Regions from separate parts of the Homo sapiens genome. Here regions 1 and 3 are each linked to region 2. Evidence: fine-mapped expression QTL. A gene starts in region 2. Each other region holds a variant in brackets. All regions are shown on one strand. Distances are from middle to middle.

Evidence for each region. PIP is the estimated chance that this variant, and not a neighbour inherited with it, causes the effect. A credible set is the group of variants that fine-mapping cannot tell apart.
Region 1: its variant is the best candidate, but not a certain one, in a credible set for the expression of RGCC in whole blood (TOPMed, PIP 0.83).
Region 3: its variant is the best candidate, but not a certain one, in a credible set for the expression of RGCC in nasal epithelium (TOPMed, PIP 0.73).

What each region holds. Positions count from the first base shown.
Region 1 is chr13:41,530,697-41,534,937 of GRCh38, reverse strand. The region is part of intron 1 of LOC105370174 (a long non-coding RNA gene); the gene reads right to left. Among named protein-coding and RNA genes, the nearest start is that of MIR5006, 36 kb to the left of the region's middle. The variant T/C (reference allele first, on the strand shown) is at 1,823.
Region 2 is chr13:41,455,859-41,460,099 of GRCh38, reverse strand. RGCC (regulator of cell cycle) reads right to left here and starts at 2,550. Exons shown (of 5, transcript NM_014059.3): 1 at 2,344-2,550; 2 at 1,630-1,815. The coding sequence starts at 2,392. RefSeq lists enhancers at 1,508-1,637, 1,687-2,364 and a silencer at 1,938-2,777.
Region 3 is chr13:41,484,792-41,489,032 of GRCh38, reverse strand. No RefSeq gene overlaps it. Among named protein-coding and RNA genes, the nearest start is that of RGCC, 29 kb to the right of the region's middle. The variant C/T (reference allele first, on the strand shown) is at 1,822.

The sequences.
Region 1 (4,241 bases), 75 kb before region 2:
GTAACATCACACACCGGGGCCTGTTGTGGGGTGGGGGGAGGGGGGAGGGATAGCATTAGGAGATATACCTAATGTAAATGACGAGTTAATGGGTGCAGCACACCAACATGGCACATGTATACATATGTAACAAACCTGCACGTTGTGCACATGTACCCTAAAACTTAAACTATAATAATAATAAAATTAAAAAAAAGAAAAGAAAATTCACAGATGACAGAAAATTCATGATTTATAAAGGAACAATCATTTCCTCATAGCCAGACTGTGAAACAAACACAAAACAAAAAGGAACAATCATAAGGAAAAAATGTTTTCTTCTCAGGCACTCAACCAATGGCACTTAAAAGTAGGATATCAGTCAGGCACGGTGGCTCACACCTGTAATCCCAGCACATGAGGAGACCGAAACAGGCAGATCATGAGGTCAGGAGTTAGAGACCAGCCGGGCCAACATGGTGAAACCCGTCTCTCCTAAGAATACAAAAATTAGCCTAGTGTGGTGATGGGCACCTGTAATCCCAGCTACTCGGGAGGCTGAGGCAGGAGAATTGCTTGAACCCAGGAGGCGGAGGTTGCAGTGAGCCGAGATCACGCCACTGCACTGCAGCCTGGGTGATAGAGCAAGACTTTGTGTCGAAAAAAAGCGGAATGTCATTTTTTATGTCTTGTAGTTCCAGTAATACGAGAGTGTAGTGAGATGAGCCCCTCACACTCCGTTGCCAGAAGAATAAATATCGGAATAATATTCATCCTCCATCAGTTATATCTAGTTTGCTCTTTCACGTTTGATGTTGTTTATAGCATTGGGCCACTGCATTCTGAGGATTTAGACATCTTCTCCAAAGGAAATTGAGCCCCCTCCCTGAAGCTGCAACAAGAGCATCCTGAGCTCCAGCCTGAGCAGGGCTGAGAGTGTTTGTATGGGTTTGAGATAGAAGGATCTTCCAGAACAAGCCTTTCCTGTGTTCCGCCAACCATTGGCAAGAGAGCTCTGTCCCGTGGGGTGTGGATAACGTGCATATCAGAAGCATCCTCGCCTGATTCCAAGTCTTCTGGTAGCTCCGTTTTGCCAGACAGGCAGGGCGTTTTCTTGGAAACTTGTAAGTGTCACATTTTGTGTAAACAGGGAGTTCCACTAGAGTCTTTCATCATCACAACACATAAAAGATACATTAAGAAATTCCTGAAATTGCAGCCTTAAGACAGAGGACCCAGCTCTATGCCACAGGCTCACACATTCTTCGGGTGGTCGATTGCATCTTACATTTTAAAATCTCTCAGCAGTGATGATAGAGTAGGTAAAGAAAGTACCTTGGAAAATCCTACAAAACCATCAGGTGTTTTGGTCTACAAGAAGGAGTAGGGAAGTAAGAAACACTATTGTGAGGGTTCAGGGCCCCACGATGGGCAGCACAGCTCACTTCTGTTCAAAGTAGTTTCATTTTACCTGCTCCCGGATACACAGAAACCTCACTACAAGATTCCAAAGGAGCAGACTGGGGAGGATTATCACCTTCCAAACCCAGAGCTGACCTCCCTCTCACTGCGGCTTCAGCAATTCTTTCTGCAGGTGGGACATCGGCTAAAGGGCCTCTATTCCCACAGAACCCAGCCAAACGTAGGTGGGCAAGAGGAACACGGTAGGACCAGAGGCTCCTGAAAATTGCCGGTGGCTGCATCTTTTGGGAGAAACCATTTGCAATATGAATTGAAAGTCTCTGCTCTCTCAGAGCTTTTAAGATTTTTTCTACATGTCATTGTCATTATAAAATTGTAAGAGGATATATTTAGATTTGAATCTTTTTTTTTTCATTGTTCA[T/C]GCTCAACACTCAACAGACTCTTTTATTCTAAAGATGTATTGGCTTTCTTCAGTTTGGGAATATTTTTTCTATTATTTTTTAGGTAAGAGACTGGGAGTGGTGGCTCATGCCTGTCATCCCAGCACTTTGGGAGGCTGAAGTGGGAGGATCAGTTGAGGGCAACAGTTCCAGACCAGCTTGGTCAACACAGTGAGACCCCATCTCTATAAAAAAAATTTTTAAAGATTAGTGTCAAATTATGACAATAATTAACAGTAAAAATAAATTCCTTTACATTAGGTAAATGACGAGTTAATGGGTGCAGCACACCAACATGGCACATGCATACATATGTAACAAACCTACACATTGTGCACACATACCCTAGAACTTAAAGTATAATAAAAAAATAAATTCCTTAAATAATAATTTTTAAAGCCCTTTACATGTAAAGCTAAAGCCCACCATTCCCAATCCCTCTCCATGCCCAACCTTACCTAAAGGAACCACTATTATGAGTTTGAAATATAAATGCACAGTGTACGCACGCACACACACACAAACACATTTAAGAGATATATATATTACTTTGAAGAGTTTTCATCCTTTCTTTTCTTTCGTCCTTCTTTCCTTCTTCTTTTTTTTAGGAATGGGTTCTTGCCATGTTGTCCAGGATGGACTCAAACTCCTGGGTTCAAGAGATCCTCCTGCCTCAGCCTCAGAATAGCTAGGACTTCAGGTGCCACCTCACCCAGCTTTTTGTGGGGTGGGAAGGGAGGGCTTTTTCTGTCTTTTAAGGACTTCCCTACCCCAAAGTCAAAACGACATATTTCTTCTATGTTTCTTTAAAATATTTTGTGGTTTTGTTTTGGACATTTAGGCCTTTAAACAAGTGGGAATTTACATTCGTGCATAATGCAAGGTGGGGATTCAACACCTTTTTCTTCTCTATGAATAACCAATTAGACCAACTGTGCTTACTGACCCATCTATCCCCACATACTGGAGTGCCATTTTGTCACACACCAAATGCCCATGTGTATATTGGTCTGTTCCATGGTCTGAGTGTTGATGTCCCCCAGAATTCATACATTGAAACATAATCCCCAATGTCATGGTATTAGAAGGCACGGTGCTTGGGAGGTGACTAGGCCGTGAGAGTGGAGCCCTTAAGAATGGAATAAGTGCCCTTATAAAAGGGACTCCAGAGAGCTCCCTTTTCTCTTCTGCCATGTGAGGACACAGTGAGAAGGCACCATCTATGAATCAGGGAATGTGAGCCCTCAGCCAGCACTGAACCTGCTGACGCCTCAGTCTTGGACTTCCTGGCCTCTAGAACTGTGAGAAACAATTCTTATAAACAGTTCTTCTAAACTGTTATTTATATGCCACCCAGGCTATGGTATTTTGTTATAGCAGCCCAAACAGACTAACACAGTCTAGTTCTTGAGTTTATTCTGTCCTACTAATCTACTTGCCTATTCTATAGCAATGTCACAATTTCCATTTCTATAACTTTAAAATATATCCTATTAGGTTGAGAAAAAAGCCCCTCTTCTGATTCTTTTGGCTATTTCTTTTTTAAAAGATGGGTAATACATGCCTAGAGTACAAAATTCACAAAGCATGGTATAAAGTCACCCTCTTTCTTTCACTGCTGTTCCCCAGCTATACAGTTTTCCTCCCCAGAGGAAATCTCTTCCATTTTTTTCCAGGAATATCCTAGGCATATATCAGCATACAATTATGGAAGTATTCAGTATGTATTTTGTAAATCCTTCCTATCAGTATATATAAAACTGTCTCATTCTTCTACATTCCACTGTATGAAAACCATGTTATTTATCCAGCCTCCCATTGCAGACAGTAAGCTTGCTTCTGAGATTTTACTTTTCAAAATAATGTTTCAGGAAGTATGCATGCATATACATTCTACACATGTGAACATATCTGTCCAATAAATCCTTAGACGTGTGACTATAGTCAAAGAGCACTGACACGTGTTTTTAATTCTGATAACAATGCTAGAGGTTCCATCTGTTTATATTCTTATCTTAGATATGTTGACATACTTCCCTGCACATCCCCGCCAACACAACATGCTATCAAACTTTTGGGTTTGATACCAGATAGATGAAAAATGGCATCTCATTGTCCATATTTGCATTTACTTTATTATGAGTGGGTCAGTCATCTTCTCATATGTTTAAGAACCATTCGTACTTCCTTTTCTTGTTCTTTGCTCTTTTTCTTTGATGGTGGTTCTTTTTCTTATTGACTTGAGAGAGCACATTGTTATATTAAATAACTTAATTTCTGTGGCAAATATTGTCCCCATCGTTTCCCCATCAAAACATCATTTCTCTTTTGACTCTGTTTATAGTGGGATTTTTGTCTGATTGCCATGCAGAATTATTTTATTTGTATTATTAAATTTGT
Region 2 (4,241 bases):
CACATATAACCTAAGCAAAACTACAAACTATCCCAACTATCTCCCCTGAAACTGTTAAGAATGTGTTTCTATGTCTTCTCTTTAAGGCATCTGAAAACAGATTCTAGATCTGAAATCCCACCCAGTGGAAGTTGCAATCAGCCATGAATGGGCGCGCTCAGACCTATTCTAGTAGAGTGAGGCTGTTGCTTAGAAAGGAGCTGTTCTTTGCCACAGAGCAGCAGCGACACACTATCCTAGCTTTCTTTTCCATGCGAGAATCTGTATTTGATGAATAACTTGCTCCATGCCCCAGTAGGAGGAGACATATTTAAGTTTGGCCTTTAGAATTGAGACAAATTTCAAAAATGTTAACACTTTGCTTTGAAATTGAAAATGAACCTATTCATTAAGAACAAAGTCCAAAAATTCTAAGTGGAAAAGTAACAGTACTTTCTTCCATCCCCTTTCACCTCAAAAGCTGCAGCTTGGTCTAACTCTTTGGCAGTGCTGCCAAGGAAACAAGCTGGAACTCAGCTTCCTGAGTCAAACCCTGACCAGGGTGGTGAGCGCATTTATCCCTTTGCAGAAGGGCAGCTCATGTTCATGTCTAGCCCCGAATCTTAGCCCAGGAACAAGGAAGAGCTCCAGGTTTCAAAATAAGAGAATCACACGGAAAGGCCATTACTTTCACGTCCTGAGTCAAGGGCAGCAAAAGGAGTGACATTCATGCCTGTAACCCATCTAAGGATTAAAGGCTGAAGAATAACACAGAAGAGTTTAAAATTGACTTTGCCCTTTGAAAAACAATAAGCAATTCTGGATTTGAAACCAACAATCATGTAATATTAAAAAGGCACCTAATTTGCTGTTTGAGGTACCTGTAATCCTCCCAGGACATGTGAGTTCCTGGAAAAAGCTGTCTCTTTTGTTGTTTTTGTTGTTGTTGCTGTTGTTGACAAAGTTGTTCAGGACAAAGAGACCCTGGGGTAGTCTCCATTGTGAGAAAGATCACCAGGAACCACCTTCATGCCCATGTGCTCTCTGGCTCCCCCTCCAGCCTGGTGGAGGACCTGGCTGAAAAATACTTGAACTCAGCAGTGCCAAAGATTTTCATAACTGCATGCAATGGAGCAACAAGTCTGAGAGCTAAGGGCCAGAAGACAATGCAAGCAGTTATTTCATAAATCCCAAGAACAGCAGTTTGGGCTTATGAAACCTTTCCTGGTTTCATGAATATTTCCGTTCTGCGCCCTCCCATGTCCCCACTGTGCCCCCTCATTCCACTGGCACTTGTTCCACATCTGCAAAGTTACAGCTGAGAGGGGAGAGGCACGGAAAGGAGAAGAGGAGGGAAACTGCGGAAAGGCCTGGTGCAGGTCCAGGGAGTCCTGTCTGGCTGAGTCGGGACAAGCTGCTTAAACTCGCCTGCCTGGTGACACACCCGTGGGCGGCAAGTGAACCAACCTGCCCTCCAGCGACCTTTCCCGTGATTATCGTCAGGGGCCCCGCCACCACTCGGCCTACTGCGTTGAGCTTCAGGAAACCATTCCTCAGTTTACTGATAAGAAAACTGAGGCCGCAGCCTTCGCGGGGCAGGTCCTGGGAGCTGGGAGATCCCGGCGCCATCCTAGCGGGGGCCGCACTTACTCTCCGAGTCGCTGAAGCCGCTGCTGTCGCTGACACTGGCGCTGCTGCGCCGCTTCATGCGCTCCAGGTGCTCCTCGTAGTGGAAGTGGCGCTCGTGGAAGGGCGACGCGAAGTCGGCCAGCACCGCGTCAAACTCGCACAGCGCGTCCGACAGGTCCTCCGCGGCCGCCGAGTCCAGGGCCGGGGCTGCGGGCAGGGCCAGGGGCTCAGTGCACGGAAGTCAGGGGGGCAGCGGGACCACCTCCCAGGGCCAGGAGGGGCCGCCACGGTTCCCGAAGATAACTGACACTTGGCGCCTCTGCCAAGTGACAGCCACGCAGTCGCTGTTACCTTGTAATCTTCTCCACCACCCCCGAAGTGCGTTCTATTACCAAGTCCGTTTTACAGACAAGAAAACTGAGCCTTCGCCAGGCCCAGGGTCACCCAGCGACTTGGCGCGGCCAGATTCCTCCCCAGGCGCTGCCGGTTACCTGTCCCCGCCGCTCCCCCCAACCCCGGGCGCGCGCGGAGCTGGTGGTGGAGGGAAGGTGGGACATGGGGGCCAGCCCGGGCCGGAAAGGAGGCTGCAGCCGCCCGCGCGGGAAGACCGGGGACAGGTTCCCGCCGGGGAGGATGGAAGGGTGGGGGGTGTGAAGGGACGACACGGGGCCCCTCCTTTCTCACCCGCCATCTGCAGAGCCGAGACTTTAAGGGGACCCCGGACCCCGCACTCACCTGCGGCCGCGGCGGCCGCGGGGCTGCCCTGCGCCGCGGGCGGCTTCATGAGGCGGCTCAGCTGGGCCCGGCGCGCGTGGCCTTGGGTCCTGCGAGGTGGCAGCCGGGGCTATTCGGGGGCTTGCTGTCCCGCACACTTCAGCCCTGCCAGTCCCTTCGGCGCTGCGCTCCAGCCGCGCCGCTCCCAGCACGGTCCGCGCCCGCCCTACCACCGGCTCGGGTTCCTAGATCTTATAGCCTTCGGCGGCCGGAGCGGAGGCGGGGCCGGGGCGGGGCTGCGGAGCCGGGGCGACGGGTCTGTCCCCGCCGCCCTCCGAGGAGGCCCCTGCCCCCAGGCACCGCCCTCGCCACGCGCCCGCCCTGGAACCGCGGTGACGAGGAGTCGCCGAAGCCCCGGTTACAGCCCCAAATATTTACCCGCCTCTCGCCCCCGCGCCCTGACAACCCGGCCCACGCGGTGTCCTCGGCGTCACCAGAGCTGACTGCTGGGCGCGAGCTCTGCTGCTTCCCGCCGCGTGCCAGGCACCTCCGCGAGCCGCAGCTTCCTCGGCTGTGAAGTGGACGTGGGCATGCAGAGCCTCCCTGGCTGGCGGTGAGGGACGAAGGAGCCCGCGGCCGTGTCCCAGTCGGGTGTCGGGGACGCGGAGGTCCCCTACGCATTGTCCCAAGGGGACTTCCGAGATGGTGGGCGGGCGGAGTGGAGAGGGTCGGGGCGAGAGGGGCAGGAGTTGGGGGAGTCCTGAACTGTTCCCACCGCGGAGCGCGGGGGCCTGAACTACGGTCCAGGGCGCTCCCGCCAGCCTGACTTTATCTAGAAGGGGTTTATTATGGGAAGAAACTACTGCGTCGACGCAGCGCGAACAGGGCGCCTTGCAGTGTCCACGGAGTAACGAGCCACCCTGCCCCGCGGCCTGCGGGGGCGAACGCCCTGGACTGTGCGCTGAGCTAGGCGCTAGCCTCTCGCCTCTCACCACAGACGGCTAATTAAATGTAGAGCAATTAACATGTAACGGAGTGAAACATTCAGCCTCCACTCCCAGCTAGTTTTTGTATTTTTAGCAGAGACGGGGTTTGTCCATGTTGGCCAGGCTGGTCTCGAACTCCCGACCTCAGGTGATCTGCCCACCTCAGCCTCCCAAAGTGCTGGGATTACAGGCGTGAGCCACCGCACCCAGCCAGGATTTGTTTTCAGAATATAGAAAGACCCATCTACAAAGTAATCACAAATAGACAACCTGGTAAAAATTAAAAATGAGCAAAACATTGAAACATACACCTCACAAAGGAGTATATGTTAATGACCACTAATCATATGAATAGTCCTCCTCTCTTGTCTACTCTGGGTGGCCTAGGGATATGCTTGTCTTGTGGAGGCACAAGCACTGTGGGCTCAAGAGTGGGGAGCCTCTTTCCCTGTTAAGGGGAGGACACCACTGGGATCTCTGGTGCCATCTCCTGCAATGGATCCTCTGATGTGGGGTCGAACAGAACTTCAGGAGTTGATTTCCCTGGGTGAGTGGAGCGGGATCCTTCCTTAGCTATCTGTCCCTTTGCTACTAGTATTGCTGCTGCATGCCCTCAGCCACTGTGGGGGTTCTAGCACCAGCTGTCACCAAGTGTCTATGTATGGGAACTGGTCTAGGTATCTTTACCAGTTACCTTGTGCCACGCCTTAGAAACAAGGGACCTGTCCAGGCTTCCTTCTGATGGCCAACCCACTTCTAATGGTGCGCAATCTATTTCCCACAAGGTTCTAAGTTCCCCTGGTGGTCTAGTGCTTAGGATTCGGTGCTCTCACCGCTGCTGCCTGCGTTCGATTCCCGGTCAGGGAACAAAGAAATGGAGCATGGATGAGCAGCGGACAAAACCCCTCAGACAGCGGATTAAAGAAGGAAGAG
Region 3 (4,241 bases), 29 kb before region 2:
CAAAATACAAGAAAATATTTGCAAATTCTATATCTGGTAAGGAACTTGTATCCAGAATACATTGTAAACTCCTACGACTTAGCCAGGAACAGTGGCTCATGCCTGTAATACTAGCACTTTGGGAGGCTGAGGCAAGTGGATTGCTTGCATCCAGGAGTTAGAGACCAGCCTGGGCAACACGGCAAAATTTCATCTCTACAAAAAAATACAAAAATTAGGCGGGTGTGGTGGCATGCACCTGTAATTCCAGCTACTCATTAGGCTGAGGTGGGAGGATCACTTGAGCCTAGGAGTTTGAGGCTGCAGTGAGCCGTGATGGCACTACTGCACTCCAACCTGGGTGACAGAGTGACACCATCTCAAAAGAAAAAAAGAAAAGAAAGCTCCTACAACTAAACAGAAAGAAGACAACCTAGGGAGAGGTGGAGCAAGATGGAATAGAAAGCTCCACAGATCATCACCTCCCACAAGGACACCAATTTAACAACAATTAAACAATTTAAAAGCACCTTTCCTTTGCTTTAAAAGCAACTATTAACAATTTAAAAGCACCTTTGTAAGACCCAAAAATCAAGTGAATTCTCACAGTACCTGGTTTTAACTTCATATCTCTGAGAGAGGCACTGAAACCAGCAATTGTGAGGCATTGAATTCAGTGCTACCCTTGTTATAAGAGAAAGCAAAACCAGACCAAACTAAGCTGACACATGCCCACAGAGGAAACATTTAAACCCTAGACAGAGGGGAATCTCTGATCCCAGCAGTACGAACTTCAGTTCCCGCAAGCCTCATCACCTTGGACTAAAGTACTCTGGAGCCCCAGATACACTTGAAAGGCAGTCTAGGCCACAAGGATTGTAACACCTAGGCAATTCCTGGGATGAACTGGGCCCAGAAACAGTGGACTAGGGGAAGCACGTGACCTACTGAGACACCAGTTGGGGTGTCTAAGGGAGTGCTGGCATCACCCCCCACCCACCCCGGGTTGCATAGCTCATGGCTCCAAAAGTGACCCCTTCCTTTTGCTTCAGGAGAGGAGATGGAAGAGTTAGGAGGACTTTGTCTTTCATCTTGGATACCAGCTCAGCCACAGCAGGATAGGGCACTGGTGAGAGTCATGGGGCCCCCATTCCAGGCCCTAGCCCCTGGACATTTCTAGCCACACCTTGGCCCAGAAGAGAATCTGCAGCCTTGAAGGAAAAGACCCAGTCCTAGCAAGATTCATCACCTGCTAACTAAAGAGCCCTTAGGTCCTGAATACCAGCAGCAATACCCAGGTACTAGGTTGAGGGTCTTGGGTGAGACACTGAGTCTTGCTGGATTCAGGTGAGACTCAGCACTTTCCCAGCTCTGGTGGCTATGGGGCAAGACTCCTGCTTGAGACAGTGGAGCAAAAAGTAAAGGGAACTTTGTCTTGCAACTTAGATATCAGCTCAGCCACAGTGGGGTAGAGAACCAAGTATTCTCTTGGGGTTCCCTATTCCAGGACTTGGCTGTTGGATGGCATTTCTAGACCTGTGTAGAGGGTCCACTCCTCTGAAAGGTGAGTCCCAGGCCAGGCAGCATTCACCACGAGCTGACTCAGGTGGCCTTGAACCTTAAGGGAACATCAGTGGTAGTCTGGCAGTACTCCATGTGGGCCTGAGGTGACAGTGGTCATGGAGTGAGGCTCCTCTACCTCTGGAATGGAGAGGGAAGAGTGGGAAGGACTGTGTCTTATGGTGTGAGCGCCAGCTGAGTGACAGGAAAATAGAACACCAGGCAGACTTCTAAGGTTTTTGCCTCTAGTCTCTGACTCCAAGAAGGTACCTCTGGACCCAC[C/T]CAATGCCTGGGGGAATTTGCTGCCCTGAAGGGAAGGACACAGGCCTGGCTGGCTTTGCCACCTGCTGATTGTAAAACCCCCAGGCTTTGAACTAACATAGGCAGTAGAAAGGGAGTGGTTACAGCAGGCCTCAGACAAGACCCAGTGCTGTGCTAGCTTCAGGTCTGACCCAGAGCAGTCCTAGGGTTGGTGGCCACAAGGGTGCTTGTGTCACTCCACTCCTAGCTCCAGGTGGCTCAGAACAAAGAGAGAGAGAGAGAGAGAGAGCACCCATTTGTTTGGGAAACAATAAGAGAAGAGAACAAGAGTCTCTGCCTGGAAACCCAGATAATTCTTCCAGATCTTGTCCGAGACTATCAAGGTGGTACTTCTATGAGTCTGGAAGAACCACCACATTACTGGGCTTGGGGTCTTCCCTAAAGCAGATACAGCTTAGATTATAACACTCAAGTCCTTTTGAATATCTGGAAAACCTTGCCAAAAAGGATAGGTACAAACAGGCCCAGACCATAAAGACTACAATAAATACCTACCTCTTCAATGCCCAGAAACAGACGAACTTCTACAACTATTAATACAATCTAGGAAAACATGACCTCACCAAATGAACCAAATAAGGCACTGGGGACCAATCCTGGAGAAACAGAGATATGTGACCTTTCAGACAGAGAATTCATAATAGCTGTTTTGAGCAAACTCAAAGAAATTCAAGATGACACAGAGAAGGAATTCAGAACTCTATCAGATAAATTTAACAAGAGATTGAAATAATTAAAAAGAATCAAGCAGAAATTCTGGAGTTGAAAAATGCAACTGGCATACTGAATAATGCATCAGAGTCTTTTAGTAGCAGAACTGATCAAGCAGAAAAAAGAGCTAGTGAACTTGAAGACAGGCTATTTGAAAATGTACAGTCAGAGGAGACAGAATAAAAAAGAATGAAACAAGCTATTTGAAAATGCAGTCAGAGGAGACAAAATAAAAAAGAATGAAAAAGAATGAAGCATGCCTACAGGATCTAGAAAATAGCCTCTAAAGAGCAAATCTAAGAGGTATTGGCCTTAAAGAGGAGATAGAAAGAGGAGAAGAAAGTCTATTCAAAATGATAATAACAGAGAATTTCCAACACCTAGAGAAAGATATCAATATCCAAGTACAAGAAGGTTATAGAGCACCAAACAGATATAACCCAAAGAAGACTATCTCAAGGCATTTAACAATCAAACTCCCAAAGGTCAAGGATAAAGAAAGGATGCCAAAAGCAGCAAAAGAAAAGAAAAAAATAACACACAATGGAGTTCCAACATGTCTGGCAGCAGATTTTTCAGTGGAAACTTTATAGACCAGGAGAGAGTGCAATGATGTATTTAAAATGCTGAAGGAAAAAACTTTTACCCTAGAATAGTATATCCAGCAAAATTATCCTTCAAACCTGAAAGGGAAATAAAAGACTTTCCCAGACAAACAAAAGCTGAGGGATTTCATCAACCCCAGAAATGTCCTACAAGAAATGCTAAAGGGAGGACTTCAATCAGAAATAAAAGGACATTAATGAGCAATAAGGAATCATCCGAAGGTACAAAACTCACTGGTAATAGTAAGTACACAGAAAAACACAGATTATTATAACACTGTAACTATGATGTGTAAGCTACTCTTAAGTAGAAAGACTAAACAATGAACCAATCAAAAATAATAATTACGACAACTTTTCAAGACATAGATAATACAATAAGATATAAACAGCAACAACGAAGTTTAAAAGTGGAGGGACAAATTTAAGGCATAGCATCTTTGTTAGTTTTCTTTTTGCTTGCTTGTTTGCTTATGCAAACAGTTTTAAGTTGTTATCCACTTAAAATAATGGGTTATAAGATAGTGTTTGCAAGCCTCAAGGTAACCTCAAACTAAAATCCATACAACATAAGCACAAAATATAAAAAGCAAGAAACTAAATCACATCACCAGAGAAAATTACCTTCACTAAAATGAAGACAGGTAGGAAAGAAAGGACAGAGAGGAAGGCCACAGAACAATCAGAAAACAACTGACAAAATGGCAGAAGTCCTCACTTATCAGTAGTAACACTGATTGTTGGCCAGGTGTGGTGGCTCACACCTGTAATCCCAGCATTTTGGGAGGCCAAGGCGGGTGGATCACCTGAGATCAGGAGTTCGAGACCAGCCTGGCTAACATGGTGAAAACCCATCTCTACTAAAAATAGAAAAAAAAGTAGCCAGCTGTGGTAGTGGGTGCCTGTAATCCCAGCTACTTAGGAGGCTGAGGCTGGAGAATCACTTGAACACAGGAGGTGGAGGTTGCAGTGAGCCAAGATCACACCATTGCATTCCAGCCTGGGTGACAAGAGCAAAACTCTGCCTCAAAAAAAAAACAAAATAGTAACCTTGATTGTAAATGA